2 linked regions of the Homo sapiens genome follow. The protein of the gene in region 2 interacts with the protein of the main gene of each other region in a pairwise test. Each region holds a gene or a part of one and is shown on either strand. Other genes may lie near its edges.

What was found. Proteins that work in one complex are often made in the same cells at the same time.
Region 1: the proteins of MFF (region 2) and TEX264 interact in binary tests that used the Homo sapiens proteins (3 or more experiments, as listed by UniProt).

What each region holds. Positions count from the first base shown.
Region 1 is NC_000003.12:51,695,252-51,698,751, reverse strand, and holds part of TEX264 (testis-expressed protein 264), read right to left. Parts: intron 1-3,500. UniProt on the Homo sapiens protein: Major reticulophagy (also called ER-phagy) receptor that acts independently of other candidate reticulophagy receptors to remodel subdomains of the endoplasmic reticulum into autophagosomes upon nutrient stress, which then fuse with lysosomes for endoplasmic reticulum turnover.
Region 2 is NC_000002.12:227,342,251-227,345,750, forward strand, and holds part of MFF (mitochondrial fission factor), read left to right. Parts: intron 1-494; coding exon of another isoform or gene 495-569; intron 570-3,500. UniProt on the Homo sapiens protein: Plays a role in mitochondrial and peroxisomal fission. Promotes the recruitment and association of the fission mediator dynamin-related protein 1 (DNM1L) to the mitochondrial surface.

The DNA of each region.
Region 1 (3,500 bases), on a different chromosome or scaffold from region 2:
ACATGTAAACTCAGGTTTTAGCTGATGGGGAAGAGGGAGACCCTGGACTGGAAGGTCAGGTAGGACAAGTAGATCTAGCACAGGACATTACCCAGTGGGCTGATGTACCACCTTTTGGGCCCCAAGTTCCAAAAGGCACTCCACCTCCCTCTGCCTAGACACAGAATCCAGTGCTCCCCATCCCCCAATGAGTATGGAGGGGCACAGACATGCCAGAGCCACCCTGAGGCAGGCAGGGACAGCCAGAACAGGGGTCAAGTTGCCTCTTACTCAGAGCCTGCCCCGCCACCTTTCCTGCGAAGGAGCACAAATACCCACTATGATGACTGCAAGGCCCCTGCCCTGTCACTGCTCACCCGCCAATCTTCACAACACGACTATTTATAGCATTCGCCCCGCTCTCACCATGAGCTCTGAAATGAGCCTTCCACTTAGCAGTAATGAGAGACTTATTGCCTGGCAAGGAGAAGCCACTCCAAGACTCCACTTGTCCACCTGCCTGGCCAACCCTAGGGTTGAGGAACCTCCTTCAACTAAAGCAAGCTAGCAAAGAAGGGTTAAAAGCAAGCCCACGGATGATAAAGGGAAAGAGGAGTGAGCCTGAAAGGTTTACCTAGCTAGGACCCTCAGCAGCCAGCTGAAGGGAGGGTGCATCTAGGAGGCCACGCGGGAGGTGGATGGCCTGTCCCAGGTCTGGCTGTGGCTCAGCCTCTGACTCCATGGGTGATCCAGGCAAAGCCTTCCATCCTAAGTCTCCATGTGCTCAACAGCAAAGTAGAACACCCTAGCCCTGATGCTTCCAAGGTCGGTGAAGGAAAGTCATTATTTTTTAATAGTTGGAGTCAAATCTTCTTTGCCAACCTGGGTGCCCTCGGGGCTTCCTCCATCTCAAGAGTCCATGCCCCTGACACGTCCCATTTCTAAACACACAGATGGCTGTCTTTGCTTCTCTACCCACTCACATACCCACTCCAGCCTTGGTCTCCAGGAGGAGGCTAAACAAGATCACAGTGTCAGGAAGCAGGAGCTGTCAGGCTCTGGGGCCCCTCCAATGCCAGCACTTAGAGGCAGGCATCTGCCAAACCTGAACCCAACTCAGCAAACTGGTCCAGGTCACTGAGGCCAGGGGCAGGGAGGCCCCTGAAGAAGGTCCAGGTCCTTCCCCAGTAGCTAGATGAAAGAAAAGGATCCCTGAATCTAGTCAGGGCATGGCCTTCACCAACATCCTCACACTCTGGACAAAGGACCCAAAGGGTAGTAGCTGAGTGGCCATCACAAGAGCAGCAGACATTTGGCTTTTGGGGGAAGATCCCAGAGGACAGAGCCTGTGTCCACCCAGAGATTCCAGGGACAATGGGGACCCTAGCCCAACCCCTCTCAACACTCAAGCCACCTCCCTAGCTTCCCTTCTGGAGGAACTTGGCCATAACAAGATAATAAGAGGGAGTACTGCTCTTTCCACCCTCTCCCCTAGGCTGGGCAGCACCAGGCTGCCACCCTGTGCCACCTGTTCTGCCAGCCCCCTCGTTGGCAGGCGGGAGGCAGCTCTGCGGCTGTTCTGCGCATCTGCTTCCTCCGGAGAGCCCGGCTCTGAAGTTGCCTGGCTGTGGACAGCCCCGTTGCCATGGAAACTGCATCCTCCATCCTTGCCGTCGCCTTCATCTCAAAGCCATCAGGGAGAACAGAGGATCAAGGGAGACAGAGGATGGAGAGAAAACTGTGGCCCTGCGACACAGCCCTTCCTTCTCTGCCCAGCTCTCCCTCCTCACAGCATCTCACACAGGGAGCACCAGGTCCCAGAGCCTGCTCCCAGACCCCTGGAGGGGCAGCCTCAGGCCCAAAACTAGCCTGGTCCTACCTGCTGTTACCTGGGGGCCCTGGTCCTCCCTACTGGAGGGAGGCATGGAGCTAATTAAAATGCCATTGACTGTTCAGCCCCAAATCATTATAGCACATGCACCAGGTCCTACCAAAATTCAGACTTGGGCAGAGAAGGGACAGGAAGAAGGCAAAGGAGCAAACTTCTAAGCCAGGCCCACAGGCAGAGAAGGGGCTTGTAGTTGCCCCCTGGCCCTTCCTGGGAGACTGCTCTCCCTTGCATGCTCTGCCCACTGAGCAAGAATGACTCTAGTGGGGGCTGGGGATGGAAGGTGAGGGGCAGGACAAGCTATATGCTCTGTCCCTGAGTGATCAGGCAGAGAGGACAAGCCCTTTCCCTCCCAGCCAGGTGCAACCTCGGAGGGAAGACAGGGTGACCATGGGCTGGCTCTCAGGTCCTTGCTGCACAGTAGGAGCCATGGCCCGGGCAATATGTCAATGAGCCAGTAAATATTGGAAAATCATTGGAGGAAGGCGAGGCCAGCTGCCTCTCCCTCAGTTAGCCCCAGGGAGCCCTTGGAGAGCAGACTGCCAGTGGCCAAGGACACTAGCTCAAGGTCACACTGGGCTGGTCCCACTGGTGAAGAGCCTGGGTGGGCCTGGGGTCCTCCTAGCCCTGGCACATCCCCTTCCACAGCCCAGACAGCCAGCAGTGTGTGGAAGCATTGCCAGGACATGAGAACGTGCTCTGCCACTGACACCACTGGCCATCTAACAAACCCACAGCCCAGAGCAGCTCACTCCCACACACAGACCCAAGGAGACTATAAAGCCTCTTTCCAAGGTGGGAGAGTTGCAGATGTTCACATTCCTCTCCACCTAACAGGCAAAAGTCAGTGAACCATGCCAAGGTGCCCCCAGGGTCTGCCAGAAACTGGATTCAGAGTTCCAGTCCCTCAGACACACCTCCGGGCCTTCCCTCCCACCTGGGTCTTCCACATGCAGAAACAAGATGGGGACTTGGGACACCACCCATGATGCAGGAATTTCTAAGAGACCCCAGACACCAGCACTTCCCCACCACCACCCCACCCTGCACCAACACCTGCTTACTCACTCAGGAGTGTTGGCAAAAAAGGGAAGGAGCAGCTCACCCACCTCACACAGGCTGCCACAGTGCCACTGCGTCAGCTACCTTGGGGACACACCACACACTCCCACCTCACTTCAGCCTGAGTTCATCTCCTGGGCAGGGTGCAGGCATTTACCCCATTCAGCTCAGGGCTCCCACAACAGGGCAAGACTGATACACCAGGCCAAGCTTTCCCCCACGGGACCCACAGTGCCTCCCCAGCAGGTCTTTCTGAATTATGGGAGAGGAAGAAAAGAGGTAAGAGAGAGGACCTGGACCTGAACTATCCTCATTTAGTGCTTTGTATTCAGGACATCACCCTGTGCCCTGGCTTCAGCTAGGGATTGGGAGCAAATAGAAGACAGAAGAGGTCAGGCCCAGGACGAAGGCTGATGATGGGTCCCACTCCCAGGCTACCCAGAGGCTGGAGGTTTGCTTAGAACTAGGTGGCTGCAAATGCCCAAAAGAAGGAGGCAATGTGTGGGCCAAGGACGGGTCACATCTCCTACATAAGCTCTAGGCCCAGCAAGGGATGAGGTCTGGCTGAGGG
Region 2 (3,500 bases):
TATGTATGTATTTTGTTAATAATGTAACTTTGCCCTTTCTTTTCCTACTGTTGTTAATTTTATAATTTACAATTTATCTTTAAGAATCTACATCTTACTAACTTTAGAATTTTGTATAATGAACATATTATTCAGTGTTGTTAACGTAGTGAGGAAAAAACAATTGATATAATACCTCTATTAAAATAATTATTAAACTCTTACTATCTTTACCTACTTTAGTGTTTTCTTTGTAACATGAAATTGTTGTGCGTCATAGTGCATGAAACTTTGCCTGTCTCCACTTTATTTTATTCCATGGCTTTAAGAATAAAAGTGCGAACGGGTATGAGAGCAGGAGCACTAGCCTTTGTTTTCTTAATTACTTCGAAGAGGCAATAAGATTGTGGTCAGCTATTAGCGCAAAAGTGAATTCTAAACAGTAAAATCAGATCTAGCTTTTTCTTTGTGTTATAAAAGCTGAATATGTAAAAGAAGCATAATTATTATTTAAGGTGGCACAGATCAGATTCTGCCCCAAGAAATAAAATTTCAAGGTTCCAGGCACCGATTTCTGCACCGGAGTACACGTAAGATTTTATCTGCTCTGCTTTTGACAAGTAGTTGTTTTGATTTTGAAGGATTATGTTAATACTAATCTATTCACCAGGTAATTGACGTATGCTATCCTAATTATCTTCCTGTTTGGCTTTTTAGTACCTCTGTTTCAGGATTTCTCAAACTGTCATTATATGCTTTATTAAGGAAAAAAAAAAACTAGACCATCTAAGGAAGTTGTATATGATTTTGCATGTGTTGGTGAAAGGAACCTGAAATATAATATGCACATAAGGACCAAGCATCCTTTTTTGTTTATTTTGCTTTGGTTGGTATAATAGTTCTCAACAGATTCAACGTCACCTGGTGCAGTGATCCCAATTTTTTTTTTTTTAATTTCAGCGCACTGTCTTTTCTTCTTCTATCTTGTTTCTGAAGGAGAATGGAGCATAAGTGTGGTTTGTCATTTATTTTATAATCCCATAGATGAAAACGATGCTTGGAAGCACTTTTTTGCTATTATTAAACCCACTCTTTCCATGTGACAAAATAAGGTATGAGAATGACTCACTCATGGAGCACAACGTTTTGGTATATAATACAGGTATTCAATAGCTAATACACTTCTTAAGCAACAGAAGAAACTGCACCGAAAGCCAACAGTTTTCCTCTTATTCTGGTTCTATTATTATGCTTCCAGGAACTATTCAGTTGCCATAGATAGTGGCAATATATTAAAATTTCCTCTGTATTTACAATTCCAAGAGAAATTAATATATTTGTGTTTTAGTGAAAATTTTTTCTCTTTATTGTTTTACCCTATTTTTTGGAAGAGTGATACCTCACCGAAGAGGTTAAATTCACAGGTTGGGAAACATTATTCCTATGAAAACTCAAAGAGGTACTTGATTTTGAACTTACTTTTAATAATGATATAGTTATGCCAAGTAAATTTTTATTTAAATTTTAATTCTGACAATTGGCTGGTGTTTTTTTGGTTGTTTTGTTTTTTTCTTTTGAGACGGAGTCTCACTGTGACTTCCAGGCTGGAGTGCAATGGCGTGATCTCAGTTCACTGCAACCTCCACCTCCCGGGTTCAAGCGATTCTCCTGCCCCAGTCTCCCAAGTAGTTGAGACTGCAGGCACATGCCACCATGCCCGGCTAACTTTTGTATTTTTAGTAGAGACAGGGTTTCATCATATTGGCCAGGCTGGTCTTGAACTCCTGACCTCAAGTGCTCTGCCCACCTTGGCCTCCCAAAGTGCTGGGATTATAGGCATGAGCCACTGTGCCCAGCCCTGGTGTTGTTTATGTAACTCTTATGTGATAAGATTTCATGTAAGCATGAGGTAGAGCTATTACTAATGAAGCATGGTAAACATCAGTGCTTTCTTCAAAATTTTCTAATCTTTTCTTTTAAAAAGGTAATGTTGAGACTTTGCTATTTTATAATATCACTGGAATCAGTTTATCAAATTGCATTTTTATTAAATTACTAATATATATATAATGCCATTTACTTAATCTTCTCAGTGCCTTTGCAGTATGTTTACTTTTTTATTTTCCACAATAGTTCACTTGTCAAAACTACAGAAACAGGAAGTCATTAAACCTTGGTTGGGTCCATGAGTGGACGGAGATGAAAGCGCTGTTTCCCTCCACAGTTGATAGCTGTGGAGTACATTTTAGCTCCTGTCAAACTGATTGCTAAAATGGAGCTTATTCTTTTTTGTTTTTACATTTATTTGTAAAAAATACCAACAAGACTGCTTAAAGTTTTAAAAAGGAAAGACAATTGCTAAATTATTTATTGCCTCTAATTACTAATGTAGTTTTGGCAGTCTTAATGGTGATTTATTTCATCTGTGGATGGAATTAAATGTTACCAAACAAGGACATTTAATCTATACAACACTGGCAAAAGTAGTCATCAATTAAAAAAAAAAAATACTCCCGATTTCGTTTTTTGTTTATGGAGGATTGCCATACACATGAATGAAAAGCTAATTTTTTTACTAATCTTTGAAATGTTAATTTCTTTTGAGAAACAACTAGAACCTCAAGTTATGTTTTTGATGCTGGTTTTTGAGGAAATAAATATCTTTACTAGTATTGATAAAAACTTAATTTCATCTTTTATCTTTCTACATAAGTATTTTTCATGTTAAATTATAACTGAGGATCATGTAAGGTTTTTTCTCATTGTATTCCAATTTCATGTGATCGTAAAATCTTAGAATTGAGAGAGATCTTATAGATTGTTTTAGAATCCAACCTTCTGCATTCCATCTTAGGAACTCTTTGCAGTTAGTCTGAAGTAAGTTTATGTTTGACTATTTTATAAGATGACCTCCTCATTTCCTATATATGGACAGAAAATACTTGTACTTTTACAGTTTAAATAAACAATTCATTATTGTTTGTTTCTGGCAAAAGGATTTCTCTTAGAGGAAGTAACCCTTCTTTTATTTTAATTTTTAATGGGCCAACATCCATTAAGTTTTTTTCATGGATTTGAGTTTAGTTCATTCATACTGTTGCCCCAAGATTATAATTCTAAATATTGATTATTGTAGCCTTTAATATGTTAGTATATAGCTGGTTTATTTATCAGTACAGAATGATACACAAAGTGTTCAATTTAAACCCCCAAATGCAAAGGCAAAGTACGGATTTGTCCTTTAAAACTTGCTTGAGTGAATTTAGGCAGTTAACGCTGGCTGCTCTATCAAGAAGAGTGTAAGATGGATTGTTTGTTTATGTTGATGTAGAACTGACCATTTTTTAATTCTCACAAGCAGTAAGAGCTTCAGGTTTTCCCAGTGCTGCCTAAAGAGAATTCTGAGTGTAAGACTAACATATAGTTTTGTTTCACAAATAGGATGTTTTTTTTATTTGTTTGTTTGTTTGTTTATTTGTTTTTACCCTTCTGGAATGCCTGGTATGGGTTTTGCCAATTAC